Linked DNA regions of Homo sapiens: region 2 is linked to region 1. The links come from fine-mapping of genetic effects on gene expression. Tissue or cell type: whole blood. Region 1 holds a variant in brackets; the other region holds the start of a gene. All regions are shown on one strand. Distances are between the middles of the regions.

The links. PIP is the estimated chance that this variant, and not a neighbour inherited with it, causes the effect.
Region 2: it holds the start of ZNF469, and the variant in region 1 is fine-mapped to the expression of ZNF469 in whole blood (INTERVAL, PIP 0.98).

Annotation. Positions count from the first base shown.
Region 1 is chr16:88,025,736-88,033,835 of GRCh38, reverse strand. It overlaps BANP (BTG3 associated nuclear protein), which reads right to left. Exons shown (of 14, transcript NM_001386991.1): 8 at 6,186-6,353; 9 at 591-727. Among named protein-coding and RNA genes, the nearest start is that of BANP, 78 kb to the right of the region's middle. RefSeq lists enhancers at 2,704-3,205, 6,126-6,696. The variant T/C (reference allele first, on the strand shown) is at 3,503.
Region 2 is chr16:88,379,395-88,387,494 of GRCh38, reverse strand. ZNF469 (zinc finger protein 469) reads right to left here and starts at 4,536. Exons shown (of 3, transcript NM_001367624.2): 1 at 4,241-4,536. RefSeq lists enhancers at 5,177-5,720, 6,265-6,809.

The DNA.
Region 1 (8,100 bases):
GCAAGCCCCTAGGCGCATCAGGCTGACCACAGCTTGGGTCACAAAACCCCAATAGAGAACTCCGCACGGGCAAGGCAGGACATTGACTTGCTGCTGGGACAGTGCCCGCCCAACCTGGGTGTGCTGAGTAACTCCAAGGGACACGCTGCATGGGAACAATGACCTCAAGCTTTTGCCACTGATCCTAGAAGGAAATTACTCTTTCCCTCAGTAAGAGAGCGCCTGCACTTCTGAACTGAGAAATATTTCCGATGTTTCCCAGGAGCACGAGCTGGGGCAGGGACCACCGCACGGCCTGACCCTTGGAGCTGACTGCCCGCCTGCCTGCTGGCAGGACTGAGGTGAGCTGACTGAATGCCCCACCCCACCATGTGCTTCAATCCCTAGGCTCTGCAGCAGCCGCCCCCACCTGTGAAATGTTAAGAGCTCATGGCCACGATGACCTCTACTTTAAATGGGGACCTTGTGCCTCCTCCCAAGCTATCACTGTGCTCCCAAAACACAGCGGAACCGGTGGAAGCCGCCATGGCCCTGCCGTGGCCCACCCCGCAGCCCCCTTTCCCAAGGTGTGAGGTGGAGAGGGTACGTACTACTTGCACCTGTCCGTCTTCTCCGATCTGGTGGATCTGCACCTGCTGTGCGTTGGCCAGCGCGTAGTGCAGGGCCTGCGGCTGCGGCTGTGGCTGCGGGAGCTCGCTGGCAGGAGGTGGGGTGCTCATCATCGGCTCTGTGGGGGCAACAGGTGTGAACGGGGTGAACGAGAAGTTTCTTAGGCATTGCCTGGTGTGGCATGTGTGCACCCCCGTCCCCCACTGTCGACTCCCACAGCAGAGAAGAGGAAATGCTTCATTTTTCCTCGACTCACTGCATCTCCACTCTTCTGCAGAGATCACTACCAGTGAGTCTTAGGAACTGAGGCTTCCGACATGGAATGCAAAAGGGCCTGAGAGTGGCGTGATGCTGCTATGACAAAACCCCTTCTAGTCCCCAACTTATTTAAATGAATGAAGTTCTTAAAGTGGACATTAAAAGCTGTTTCAGGCTGGCAATATTTGTCCATGGGTAATTAAACTAATAGAGCAAAAGTCTCATCCGCACACTTAAAGATACATTTCCAACAAATTTTACTTGCTGTGTTTAATCAAAATGAGATACATTTGCTTTGATGTACTGTGTATTAATTTTCACTGTAATGATGTCTCAATCATAATTTTCTTAAACTCTCAGAATATTAAGAGCGCAGAAAAACTTTTTAATTTTCAATGTATACACGTAGTTTTGTTGCAGAGAATTATAATGACTAATTTTAAAAAGCTTTTAAGCATAAAAATGTAGTCCGGACACGGTGGCTCACACCTGTAATCCCAGCACTCTGTGAGGCCAAGGCAGGTAGATCACCTGAGGTCACGAGTTCAAGACCAGCCTGGCCAACATGGTGAAACCCCATCTCTACTAAAAATACAAAAATTAGACAGGCGTGGTGGTGGGGGTCTGTAATCCCAGGCACTCAGGAGGCTGAGGCAGGAGAATCACTTGAACCTGGGAGGCGGAGGTTGTAATGAGTCGAAATGGCACCACTACACTCCAGCCTGGGCAACAGAGCGAGACTCCATCTCGGGGGTACAGGGGAGGGAAGCAGTAAGATGAAATTCTGTGAGAGAAGTAGAATGTTGATATGAATGAAAGGAGAAAAATGAAAGACATAAAATTATTGATTATTAAAGAGAAGCGGGCCAGGCGCGGTGGCTCACGCCTGTAATCCCAGCACTTTGGGAGGCCAAGGCGGGCAAGATCACTTCAGGTCAGGAGTTCGAGACCAGCCTGACCAACATGGTGAACCCCGTCTCTACTAAAAATACAAAAATTAGCCAGGTGTGGTGGCACGCGTCTGTAGTCCCAACTACTTGGGAGGCTGAAGTAGGAGAACCACTTGAACCTGGGAGTAGGTGGTTACAGTGAGCTGAGATGGCACCATGGCACTCAGCTCCAGGCAACAGAGCGAGCGGGGGAAGGGACGGGGAGGGGCAAGAGAGGGGAGGGCAAGAGCGGGGGAGGGGAGAGAAAAGCTTTCCATGTATTTTTTACCAATAGCTAATGGTAGGTATTAAATTGCCATAGTACCTAGATTCCACTGAATACATTTTTTAAAGTAACAATAAAATGTTGGGTTTCTTTTTTTTTTTTTTTGAGAGAGAGTCTTGCTCTGTCACCCAGGCTGGAGTGTAGTGGTATGACCTTGGCTCACTGCAACTTCCGCCTCCCAAGTTCAAGCGATTCTCCTGCCTCAGCCTTCCAAGTAGCTGGGATTACAGGCACCCACCATCATGCTGGGCTAATTTTTTTTTGTATTTTTTTGTAGAGAAGGGATTTCACCAGGTTGGCCAGGCTGGTTTTGAACTCCTGACCTCAAATGATCCGCCTGCCTCAGCCTCCCAAAATGCTGGGATTATAGGTGTAAGCCACTGTGCCCAGTCACATTAACAGAATGTTGATACTTGCAATATGCTAGAAATTGCCTAGCTACACTAAATCAGAATCTGAAATTCATGAGATTCAAAGGAGATTCAACAAGCCCACCTGCATGCTGCATGTGGAGAGCTCGGCTCCAGCCAAAGACCCTGACTCCACCTGAGCACCTCCAGTGATGGGTCATGTCCCAAAGCAACCACCGCCAGGCAGTGCTGCGTGCTCCACGGCGGCTTCCTGTCTGCCTGAGCAGTTACGGAGCACTCACCACCACAGGTCCTCGAGCAAGCCTTGTGCACCCCAGGAAGAAAATGACAAAATCCCAGCTGGGCTGAAGCCCACCTCCGCGGAGCTGCTGTTCCTCCACTGACCCTCTTAGCACCTACAAAACCAGCCTAATTCTTTACTTATGCGCTACTTCTCCAGGCATCTAAGCATTATCAAACCTTGTGAAATCTCCATTTCTAACCGTTTCCCCAAAGACAACGGTTTCCAGCCCACTGCCACCATGACAGTCTGTCCCTGGACAGCTTCTCCCAGCAGCTCCAAAACACTCCACTGGGGCCACAGGGCAGACAAGCAAAGAATGGGTGTGCTCCAGAGTGCACCTTGCAACCACAAGGGCTCCGAGGAAGCTCCTGCCTACCAGCGCAGCCAGCAAAACACTCGGCTTCACACGCTGTTGCACCACCGTCTACTCCTGTGCAAATGCTCTGAGTCTACATTTCCAGCTGTGACATTTCAGCTCATTAAATGTACTCTTTCAAGATTCTGGTATCCTAATGACGCAGGCCAACATATCTGGCAGTCGTCAGGTTATATAACAGCAGCTTCTTGCTCACTAAGGTCCTGGCAAGTCATTTAACTTGGGTTTTCATTCCCCATTGGATGAAGCAGACCGCTAACCTTACCAAATGCACGTACCCGAAACACATGGAAGGCAAGCCTGGCAACAACTCTCCTCACTCTTCGAGTCTAGGAGTTCCATACGGTTCTTTTTTATGTCTTCTATTTCTCTCCTTGCTATGTTCCTTTT[T/C]TCCTTTAAATTCTTGAATGTAATTTTAATAGATTTCAATGTCCTGGTCAGTTAATTCCAGACAGGGTCCCTTCCTATTTGCTGATTTTCTGATCATAGGTCACAATCTCCTGCTTCCTGCTACTCTGGACTAGATACTGGAGATTGTGAATTTTACTTTGTTGGGTGTCTAGGTTTTGTTGTCTTTCTTTTAAAAGTGTTGTTACTTGTGGTTCAATGTGATCTTTCTCAGGCTGTCTTAAGCTCTGCCTTTATTCTAGGGATAGTTTAGCCTGCCAGTAGGCATGGCCTGCTAGTGCAGCGACTGATCACTGAGGACTCCGGCCAGTGGGAATCCAACCACCACCCAGCCTGGGGTGAGCTTAGGAGCCATTGAGCTCATGCCTGCCTTGGAGTCCCCCAAACACCCAAGAAGGCCCCCGTGTAACCCTCTGCTCTTAGGAACTTGATTCCACAACTTTCTGCTGCCTCAGCCTCTCTCAACTCCAACCCATCTCCTCCATGCAGTGATGCAGGTGTCTCTGCCCGGTATCTCCCTGTCCCCTCCTCTCATGTTCCTTCTCTCAGGATCACGGTCCTGTGCTGTTGCTTGTCTAACGTCTTAGGACAGCCGATTCACAGACACAAATTTTGTCCAGATTTCAATGGCAAGAGAATTCAATCTGGTTCCTGCTAGTGTGCCTGACAGAAACCTCCTCTCCTTGACTTTTTTTTTTTTTTTTTGAGACGGAGTCTTGCTCTGTAGCCCAGGCTGGAGTGCAGTGGTGTGATCTCGGCTCACTGCAAGCTCCGCCTCCCAGGTTCACGCCATTCTCCTGCCTCAGCCTCCCGAGTAGCTGGGACTACAGGCGCCAGCCACCACGCCCGGCTAATTTTTTTGACACTTTTAGTAGAGACGGGGTTTCACCGTGTTAGCCAGGATGGTCTCGATCTCCTGACCTCATGATCTGCCCGCCTTGGCCTCCCAAAGTGCTGGGATTACATGCGTGAGCCACAGCACCCGGCTTTTTTTTTTTTTTTTTTTTTTGAGATACAGTCTCGCTCTGTCACCCAGGCTACAGTGTGGTGGCATAGTCTCAGCTCACTGCAACCTCTGCCTCCTGGATTCAAGCAATTCTCCTGCCTCAACCTCCCAAGTAGCTGGGATTAGAGGCATGCGCCACCACACCTGGCTAATTTTTGTATTTTTAGTAGAGACGGGGTTTCACCATGTTGTCCAGGCTGGTCTCAAACTGCTGACCTCAGGTGATCAGTTTGCCTCAGCCTCCCAAAGTGCTGGGATTACAGGCATGAGCCACCACGCCTGGGCTCCCTGACTTTTAAACATTTTTTACAACTATAAAACTAATGCAGTGCTTATTGGAAATAACTGAGAAACTACAATGAAAGACAAAGGGAAAAATAAAAATTATCCTACTACCTAGAGACAGGCACTGTAAAAATGATCACACATAAATTTTTAATCAACTTCCACATATACCTATATATTTGCAATAAAAATGGTATCATGCCATAAGTATAGTCCTCACATCGCTCTCTGCTGCCTAGCTATGAATATTCAAGAGCAGAATTCAAGTCATGCGCAATATTCCTACAGCCGCATTTCAATAGCCACAGGTTACGCTGCTACATGGTATTTCAGTGAATGCCCTTAACCCACACCCCAGGACTGCTACCTCTCTCAAGTCCCAAGGCAGAATTCCTCATTGTAGTAGAAAGGCCTAGAATAGAAGAGCTTCTTCAACACAGGTCACTCAATAAAGCGCTGCTTTAGGGACACAACTTGTGTGGCCCACTACAGGCAGCCACCTCCCATCCTCAAGCCCCTGGGCAGCAGCTGAGGCCGAGTATCTGATAACTACCAAAACAGCCCGAGAAAACCACTTCCTGAAGTCCGGTTCAGAAAGAACCAGGCCCCGGGAGAACTCCAGGTGATCTGGTCTGCAACTCCCAGGACTTCCAGAACAAAGGGTTCCCGCCAACAAAGACTCCACTGAATAGGAGAGCTGGCCCTGCCCACGGCTGCCCTCGCATCCTGACCCCAGCCCCAGTCACAGCTCAAGTTCCAAGAGTCGCTGCCAATGCAGCTACTGTGGGGAGCTTTAAGAGAATAGTTTTCATTCAAATACTTACTAAAATATTTTGAGATGTCTTGGGTGAAAGGCAGTATCAAGTCACATTGTCATTCCTAGTGAAAATTCTCCAAGGAGAACAATCCCCCCAGCGATGCCTGAGAGGCAACTCAAAGAGAACTGTTTCCATTATCTTGTGGATAAATCCAACTAAGGCCATGAACTCAAAGCAAAAATAAAGCATAATTCAGAATCCACCCCACTTCTTCACCCGGAGTCACCCGGCAAATCGTGAGAATACAACGGCCGGCAGCCCCACGCAAAGGCCTCGGCCTCCTTGCCCCCATCCAGAAGACTTCCGGGAGGCCCAACAGGCCCTCTGTCCCTCACGGAGGAGCCTGGAGCAGGCCCGAGGCTGTCCGTGTGAAGGGCGCACGGGGCCAGGCACAGGTCCTGCGGCTCCACTGCTCCGTGCGCACCGCGCAAGCCTCTGGCCTCGGCTCCCGGCCACTGGTGGAGCCGCTGGCCACGCACTGGCTGCCCCTGAGGGTGCCACCAGGCCAGCTGCCCCGAGCGGGGGAGGGCGGCCTCTCCTGCAGCACGAGGCCTACCTGAAGGGCAGTAGGAGGACGAGTTGGGCGTTCTCCGCGAGAAGCTCTTGACCGCCAGGCTCTGGCCCCGCTGCTTGCGCCGCCACGCCGTGCGGCACTTGGAGTCGATGCTCTGCTTGATTCGGTACCAGTCGGATTCTGTGATGCCAAATTTATAGAAAAGGTGACCTGGAAGGACACATCCAAGGAGAAGCGGTGAGGCCTGTTCGGGACAGCCACCAGGAGCTGCCTGGCTGCAGGGCCGGGGCCCGCTGAAGAGGCCTCACCCAGGCACCCCAGCCCGCCAGGCCGGCCCCGTCTTCCTGCAAGGGTCTGGAAAGGCCCACTGCACAGAAGGTGCTTAGCTGGCCCACAGGCGGGGCTCCCCACGAGATATAAATGCTCACTAAGGTGTCATGACACACTCTTTCCATTTACTTAACTTCTCGATCCCTCTGACTCGGTCGGCCCACACCAGGTGCACACTTGGGGCTCTCACAAGATTCCCAGACCTTCCACGCCCCAACTTCCCTCTGCCCTGAGCTCACAGCAGCACCCAAGGTCCTGAATGCCCAGAGGGTGAGATCAGGGACCTCAACAATTGGATCAGAACTCGCTGGTCCTCTGCCTACTCGGGCCTGCTCGGCCACCGCCTTCCCTTCCTTCATGTCCTGGCTTCACCATCCCCCTGGATAACCACCTGGCCCTCCCGCCCTCCTGGGCTCCCACCCTCCTCCCACTTGTTTTGTCAGAGCACTGACCACCTTCCGGCATTTGGAGAATTCATGTGTGTATTGTTACTCTGTCCCCCTCACAAACACAGTTTCGAAAATTCAGGTGTGTATTGTTACTGTTCCCCTCGCAAACACAGTTTGGAGAATTCATGTATGTATTGTTACTCTGTTCCCCTGGTAAACACGGTTTGGAGAATTGAAGTATGTATTTTTGTTACTCTGTCCCCCTCATAAACACAGTTTGGAGAATTCAAGTTATGTATTGTTACTCTGTCCCCCTCACAAACACAGTTTGGAGAATTCATGTATGTATTGTTACTCTGTTCCCCTGGTAAACACAGTTTGGAGAATTCACGCATGTATTGTTATTCTGTTCCCCTCGCAAACACAGTTTGGAGAATTCATGTATGCACTGTTACTCTGTCCCCCTCATAAACACAGGGGCCTTTGTTGTGTCCACCCATGGGGGTCAGGCACCCAGAACATTCTGGCGCACAGTGGCTGCTCCTGTGTAAATAGTGATGACAACGGACTGCAAGACACCCTCCCATCGCTGCTCAGGTCCGGGGCTTGCTTATGTCATTCCCGACGCCTCTCTATCGTGCCTTCTCAACTAGAGTACAAACTCCTTACGGGCAGGGCCTGTGTCCTCATCCCTGGAGTCCCTATACCACAAGCCGAGTGGGCACAACCTACTCTCACTGTGGGGCCAAAGCCAGGTGCATCGTCTTCCTGGGGCTCACCGTGCACACGCAGAGAACTGTCCTGGGACCCCCAGTTCTCTACCACCTGCGCTACGGAGAGCTCTCAGCACGCCCTGAGCAGCATCCAGAGATGCCCTGTATTCAACAGGGAGAAAACTGAGGATCCGAAGGCCACGGCGGAGCAGGTGACAGGAGGGAGCCAGCGCCCCACTGCACGCCCGGCCACTTCCCACTAGGCCACAGGACCCCATCCCTGTAGCGATGACGAATGTGGGCATGATGGGAAGGGCTCTTCAATGCAGTGGCCTCTCTAGCTGGCTCATGCAACTTCACTAATTTACAGGAAAATACATGGATGGAATCCAAAATTGTAGTAATAAAAAGATTAAGCTGAAAAGTGTCCCGTTTCAACTACCAAGAGCCTCAAGTTCGGACTCTACTGCCCAAACCCTAAAAATCTGTTCCCATTGAGACTAAAATGGTGGAAATAATTAAAAC
Region 2 (8,100 bases), 350 kb before region 1:
CCGGACTCGGGACCAGCAACCGCAAGCAGCCAAGGGGGTGGGGCATGCTTTGAAGAACATCTGGAGGCTGTGCTGACCGCGGCCCGAGTCCCCCGGCACCCGGGGGTGGGTCCTGCCCGCCGCTCCCACCCCGCCCTGAAGCCAGCCTGGTGAACCCAGACCAAGGGGGGAGAACCGGGAGTGACGTGGACTCACAGGAATGAGGGGGCTGGACGGCCGATAGCACCTGAGGAGGGCCAAGGCCGCAACCCTCCGGCCACTGAGGGCAGCTTCCGCAGGCACGCAGGATGGGGTTGCAATGGAAGGTCCTCAGGGGTGCGGACGGCGTCCGCACCTGACCCAGGGCTGCCGCGGGTCTCTGGGTGTCTAGCACAAGGCGCTCCCCTGGGTGGACACAGTCTTGGAGGTTGGGGAGGCCCGACAAGCAGAGTATAGACTGGGTGCCGACGTGCAGTGAACAACCTGCCCAACTGTACTGGCCCATCTTTCCTTCTACCCAGGGAAATGGAAGTCCTTAGCTCTGAAGTATACGATTGCAGCCAGTCCCTGAGGACAGCATCTGCCACCCCCACCATGACCACTGGCAAATGATGAGCACGGGGAGGGAGTGGCCAAAGAAACAGGCCCTGAGCCACCTCAAGGCTACTTCACAGAGCCCCATCCTCACGGAACCACCCACTGCCTTCCACCACGCTCTGTCCAGCCCCCAGCATGTAGCAGGTCAGCTCCATCAGAGAACGAGGCTGGCTCATGGGGTTCAGTTGAGAGGCCTGGGACCTTAAAGCCACTTGGAGACAGGCTTGACCTGGAAGCGGCTGGTCTCTCGAGGTAGGTGGATGGAGCTGTGTCTGGAAAGGAATCACTAGAGGGCCCTGGATGTGACGGGACCCTCCGAGTCACCGGCCAGCGCCTGCTGAGCCCGGGGAGAAGGGATCCGGCCTGAATAGGGCCCCTTCGTCAAGGGGGATGGCCTTGCAGGGTAGATGGGACACCAGTGATGGGAGGTGGGATGCAGGATGCGTGAGGGCAGCAGGGAGAGGAGGGGTGTTCCCACGAGGGTGGGGGTGATGTCTAGGGGAGAAGGGCAGGCAGTCGCCGGTGGAGATGGGGCGGGACGGTGGGGTCCCGGGCAGGAGGCGGGAAGAGAGAACACACATCCTGAGATGAACCCATGAGGACCCTTATCAGGGAGTCAGAACAGGGCTGGACTGTGGCCTGGAATGCAGGACCCGAGCATGGCCACCGCCCACAGTGAGCAGGAGGACGGGCTGGTCACACTCTCCCAGGTCTCCTCCCCACCCTGCAGGTCTAGAATGAACCAAAGCAAGGGTGGGCTGGCTGGCCAGGAGGGAAAATGGGGAAGGCGCTGGGAAGATGGGGAGGGCGCTGGGAAGAAGATGGGGAAGGCAGAGTCCACGGGACCGGGCCGCTTGTGCCTCACCGGCATCCCTGCTCCCTATGGCGGCCTCCATCTGGGCTTTTAGCTGGCACCTTGCACCACTCAGGTCTTTCTTGTCCTCAGAACCCTCTCCACAGGTCCCACGGAGTCTCCTGAAACCCATGGGCTGCAACCACAGCAGCTGGTACCTACCAAGTACTTGCAGTGTGCCAGGCCTGTGCCAGGGTGCTCCACACACCAGCCCGTCCCACTGACCCCTGTGAGGGCTCCCCATTTTTCTGATGAGAAATAAAGTCCCAGAGGGGTTTGGTCACTCACCCAAGGCCACACAGCCCCTAGCAGCTGTTCCCAGAGCCTGGACTCTTAACTACTACACAGGCATTCCCCACATCATCAGCCCTATGTTTGGACAAGGAGGCAGGCAGGGTAACAGAATTTTTTTTTTTTTTTTTTGAGACAGAGTCTCACTCTATCACGCAGGCTGGAATGCGGTGGCACGATCATCATTAACTGCAGCCTTGAACTCCTGGGTTTAAGCAATCCTTTCTCCTCAGCCTCCCTAGTAGCTGAGAGTACAGGTGCACACTACCATGCCTGGCTAACTTACTTCAATTTTTTTTTTAGTAGAGATGGGGTCTCACTATGTTGCCCAGGCTGGCCTCAAACTCCTGGGCTCAAGTGATCCACCTGTCTCAGCCTCCCAAATTGCAGGGATTACACAGCCACCATCCCCGGCTGGTAACTGAATTATTAGTAGGAGTCAGAACCGGAAGGGAGGGTAGGGGGCTTGTCTTGAAACCATCTGGGCTCCAGATGAGTCCACCATGGCCTGATATCTAGGGCACTATCGGTGGTGACAAGACTCCAGGAGAAAGGAGGGGAGGGCATCTCTGCTTCCAGGCCACCCTGGTGTTCAGGTTTACTTCCGTTCAGCAAACACGAGGAAAGGGCAGAAACCCACTGAATTTCTCCCAGGGGAAGGTGGCAGGATGGGGCCTGACCAGGAATGTCAAGTCAGAAATGACCTGAAGAGATTAGGCATACAGGGGGAGACCATCCCTATTAAAATTATCCAAAGGCAGCCATGTGTAACAGCTGAGCAGATGTGCTGCCTGCTGCCTCAGGATGATGGACCAGTGCATTCCAGCTGGTAGGACTGCAGGAATGGCTGGAACAGGCTGCTGTGATGGGGAGTGAGTTCCCGGTCACTGGAGGTATCCAAGCAGAGTCAGTAACCTGGAGGCAGGGTCTGGTGGAGACTGAAGCGCTGATGAGGGGGTTGAAGTTCATGACCCCAAAATTTCCCTTGACCCTGAAATCCTGGGACTTCCTGGTTTGCACACTGCCCAGAGCTGCCAGCCTCGGGGCATTACAGCCACACACCCTTCACCTGTGCCTCCCAAGCTGAGACTCTGCGGGGCCCCTGGGTTCCCTTTGAGAAGGCCCTGGCCTTCCTTTTTGCCTCAGATATCCTCTTCCTCTTTTCTATTTGCAGGGCAGAATGATCACCTCCCGGTGAGCTCTGTCCTGTGGTCTGGGACCTGCCAGGCGCATGGCATGGAAGACACGTCTCCCAGGCCACCTCCTCCGAGGGTGCCTGGCTGCCCTTCCTAAAACTGCAGCTCCGCCCCAGCTTCCGAGCTCCCTGCTCAGCCCTCACGCCCGACGCTGTCCAGGCATTTACCTGTTTATTTTGTTTATTTTCAGGAATGCAGGGCTGTGGGCTGTGCTGGGGGCACCTAGGACAGGCTGGGCACTGAGAGGGCCTCAAGACACCTTTGTCCACCCGACCGGCAGAAGGGAACTAGACTTGCTCTTGGCAGAATGGGCAGGGGCTGTCCACGACACTACCGCGTGCTGTGCTCACTTCCCAGCATCAGCCCACTCTGACCATCAGTTTCTGCATCTAAGACTTGGGTTAACACGGATCTCAGGACGTAAGGATTAAACGTGATAACACGTGGCACACTCCCTATGCCCAGCATGGCTCACGGCTGGGGATGAAGCAGTTAACCGCCTCCGCTGCAGGAGCGGACTTGGCAGCTGAGCTGCCCCCCCGCCCCCGCCGGGGACCTGTCCCTCTGCCCTCGGCCCAGGGTGCAGGGACAAGGACTGGGTGGCCGCGGGAGTCCCCCGAGCCCCATTGGCCTTCCCTTCCGGCCGCCGCCACGCGGGGCGCCGCGTCCCCACGGGTCTAGACGTCCAGCCAACTTCCCGGCTCTGCAAAAGCCTCTGGGGGTGCGCGGGGCTGGGCGGGGGTGCGGCGTGGTCTCCCCCAGGGTGGGCTCCAAAGCTCCCACCCCCGTCCGGGGCGCTGACACCGCCGACTCGCAAGCCTATGCCGCGCTCGGAGCGCCGCGGGGCCAGCACGCCCGGGCGGGCGGCCCGGAGGAGGCGGCGGCACGGCTGGGGCACCCCCGGCTCCGATCCGCGATGAATGGGGCGGCCCGGGCCCCGCTCCCCGCAGCCCCGCCCGGAGGTCCCGCTCCCCGAGCCCCTCGCTCCGCGGCCCTCGCCAGTACGTTGCCCGGGCGCTTCCCAAACTGCCCACGGAGCCGGACCCCGCGCTGCCAACGCTCCGCTCCGGGCAAGGCTGCGGCCCCCGCCGGGCCCCGGCGCTCGCTGCCCCGCACGTCCGGGCCCGGGAGGAGGAGGTCGGGGGAGCCGGGCCGGGCGCCGCGAGCGCTGGGAGGGTCCGGCCCCGCCGGGGAGCGGCCCCCGAGGGCGCAGGAGCGGGAGCCGGGCCGGAGACCCCCGCGCAGCCCGGTGACACCCCCGCCCCGCGTTCCAGCCCGGGGTCCCCAGGCACCGCGCGCGCCCAGGCGGCGCATCCGCACTCACCTCCGCTCCGAGGCCCGCTCCGCCCGCCACGCCGGCCGCCGCCAACGAGCTCCCGGCCCGCGCCGCCCCAGCGCTCTGCAGCGGAGGCGCCGTCCTCATCCCGACCGCAGGCCCGCCCGGGCCGCCCGCCCGCCGGGCACCGAGCCGCTCTGCCGCGCGCTGCGCCTCGGGGCGGGGTGGGAGGAGAGGGAGCAGCCGCCACCCTGCCCAGGTCGCCGCGGGCCAGCCCTGCAGCCAGCTCCAGCCCTGGGCCGGGTGCTGGGAAGGCCGGACGCCGGCCGGCGGCCGCGGGGTCTGCCCCCCGGAGGCTGGGGCGGCTTAGGTTACAGACTCCGCCGCCCCCGCACCCTCCCCCCAGCTATTTTTAGCGCCGCTTTTCCTAGGTGTTTGTTTCATGGGACCCACCCCGGCGATGGGGGGCCCTGAGGCATTGCTCCCTGAACCCCCTCTTCACACTCCCCAGCCAGCCCACCCCAGAATGGCAGGCCTTGCTGCTGAGACGGAAACGCTGCATTCAGCACAACTTAAAAAACGTCTGCCATAATGCTACCCATGTGGCTTCCAGTGGCTGCTCTATCTCCATCCCTGGCCTGCGCTCCAGCTCCCCAGGTGCCCACACATGACACGCTTGTCCCTGTGCTTCTGTCTAGGAGGTGGGGGATGTCCCGACTGGCACCTGGCACCTGCCTGGGCAAGTTCGGTTTGAGTGGCTCAAGTTGGCCCTCGAAGGCACCATAAGGAGGTCCCCATGGCACGCTTTCTCATAGGTGGGAGCTAACATTGCCCCCAGACCTTCGTGTCTCCACTCTGGGTCCCTTGTCCAGCCCTGGGACTGCCCCAGACTGGCCCGTGAGTTCGGCAGCATTGCTGGTGGGGCGCTAGGAGCCATCCAGGCCCCTAGAGAGGGAGAGGCCCTTACCGGTCATTTGTCCAACATCTCCATTCACAGCCAAGGAAACCAAGGCCTGAAGAAGACAAGGAACCTGCCCAAGGCCACACGGCGGAGATGGCTCCAGGCAGAGCCCCCTGGCCCAGTACGTGCCCGTCCCCGGCTGTCCCAGACAGGGGCGTGTGGGCCTCCTCCAAGGGCAGGGGTGCAGCGTTACGGGCAGCATCTGGGGACGGATCGCCCTCCCCCACTTCAGAGGATCCCAAGTCATGAACTTGGTGGACTTCTAAGAAATAGGGTGGCAGTGGGGGGACTTCGCAGAAAGGAATGCTTTCAGAATTAGTCCTTCAGACAAAGGTCCCCCGGGAGCAGGTCAAGCACGCTTTACTTACGCAAGTTCAAGTTGCACACCCTTTTAAGGACACCTTTATTATGTAAAGCAAGGTGTGGCCTAACCACGGGCCTTCTGGTGGAGCCAATGAGTGGGCCTGCCCCTCCCCCAATCTGGTCTGCCTCCTGAAGCTGTTTTGGGACTCTGCGAACGGTATAGAATAAACTAAAAGGAACTGCACATGGCAGTGGGGTTTCTGTGCTGGCATCGCAGCACATGGCATTCCTGCCAGTGGACGCGAAAACGTGAATTGAAAAAGGGGCAGGGGCTGAAAGGCCCCAGAGGCTCGAGGCTTGGCTCACATTTCCATGGCATCATCTGGGGCCTCCAGGTCCTGGGATCTCCCTTTCCATGGAAAATGGGGAAGAACTAAGAAACCCTCTCGAGTTAATCAGGATTTCAATCAAGCGGGTTTCCTAAAGTTTCAAGGGCCAGGGGTCCCCTGGCTGTGGACAAAGACCCCAGAGGGCGTTTCCTTCCTTCTCGTTTCTACTGGGTCTGTTCTTGTTTCTAAGAAAGACTTCAATTTCCAAACCCGTGTGTGTGTGTGAGAGAGTGCATGTCTGTGTGTGAGTGCGTGTGTGTGAATGCATGTCTCTGTGTGTGAGTGCATGTGTGTATAAGTGTGTGTCTGTGTGCGAGTGCATGTCTCTGTGTGTGAGTGCATGAGTGCATGTGTGTGAGTGCGTGTGTGTGAGTGCATGTCTGTGTGAGTGCGTGTGAGTGCATGTCTGTGAGTGCGTGTGTGAGTGCATGTCTGTGTGTGTGTCTGTGAATGCATGTGTGTGAGTGCATGTCTGTGTGTGAGGGCGTGTCTGTGTGTGAGTGTGTGTGTGAGTGCATGTCTGTGTGTGCGTGTGTGCGAGTGCATGTCCGGGTGTGTGAGTGCGTGTGTGAGTGCATGCCTGTGTGTGAGAGCGTGTCTGTGTGAGTGCATGTGTGTGAGTGCATGTCTGTGAGCGCATGTGTGTGAGTGCATGTCTGTGTGAGTGCATATGTGTGAGTGCATGTCTGTGTGTGAGGGCGTGTCTGTGTGTGAGTGCGTGTCTGTGTGAGTGCATGTCTGTGAGTGTGTGTGAGTGCATGTCTGGGTGAGGGCATGACTGTGTGTGAGTGCATGTGAGTGCATGTCTGTGTGAGTGCGTGTGTGTGTGTGTCTGGGTGTGTGTGCATGTGTGAGTGCATGTGTGTGAGTGCATGTGTGTGAGGACGTCTGTGAGTGCATGTCTGTGTGTGAGTGCATGTCTGTGTGTGTATGAGTGCATGTCTGAGTGTGAGTGCATGTGTGTGAATGCATGTCTTGTGTGAGGGCGTGTCTGTGTGTGTATGAGTGCATGTGTGTGAGCGCATGTCTGGGTGTGTGCGTGTGTGAGTGCATGTGTGTGAGTGCATGTCTGTGTGAGGGCGTCTGTGTGTGAGTGCATGTCTGTGTTAGTGCGTGTGTGTTAGTGCGTGTGTGTGCATGTCTGTGTGAGTGCATGTGTGTGTGCACGTATGTGTGAGTGCATGTGTGTGTGCATGTCTGTGTGTGACTGTGTATGTGTGAATGCATCTGTGTGAGTGCATGTCTGTGTGAGGGCGTGTCTGTGAGTGCGTGTGAGTGCATGTCTGTGTGTGAGCGCATGTGTGTGAGCGCATGTGTGAGTGCATGTGTGAGTGCATGTCTGTGTTTTAGTGCGTGTGTGTGTGTGCATGTCTGGGTGTGTGAGTGCACGTGTGTGAGTGCATTTGTGTGTGAGTGCATGTCTGTGAGTGCATTTGTGTGTGAGTGCATGTCTGTGTGTGAGTGCATTTGTGTGTGAGTGCATGTCTGTGAGTGCATTTGTGTGTGAGTGTGTGTCTGTGTGTGTGTTTGTGTATGAGTGCATGTCTGTGAGTGCATTTGTGTGTGTGAGTGCGTGTCTGTGTGTGAGTATGTGTGTGTGTGACTGCATGTGTATGCATGCACACAAGTTCTTTTCCTAGCCCTGGGGCACCTGAATGCCGCCTGGGCGTGAGAAATGACAGAAGCCCTCACTCAGAGTCCATGCTCACAAGCATGGTGACAACAGGGGATGACCCTGTACCCACTCCGGGCCAGTCACTGTGTGAAGGACTCTGACAACCCCGCGAGGTGGGACTGCCTCTTCCCTTTCACAGGGAGGACTAGCAACCTGGCCAAGGCCCGCGGCACACCTCCCCTGTCCCAGAGCCACCGTCCACCCCTTGCCTTGTCCCCATGTTCCACACCCACCTGCTTTGACTAACCCAGTGGCAGCATCAGGAGTCACTTTGGACTGTTACAACTGGGAGCTACCTCTGGCATCTAGCTGGGGGGCAGGGGCTGCTGCCACGCCTCCCCAGTGCACAGGAATCATCCTGCCCCAGGTGTCAATGGCGGGAGGTGAGAATCCTGGTATCAGCACCCTCCTGGGGGCAGCTTTGCTCCAGGCTTGGCCTCCTGATTCCCGTCCCTCCCCTGGCCTGGCCCTGGCAGCGCCTCTTCCCCCTCTTCATAGCCCTCAAAGCCATCAGAGAGCTGAAAAGGAGGGCCACGTCCACCCCTCCTGGAAGGAGTTGCCTGATGGGGTGCTCTGCAGG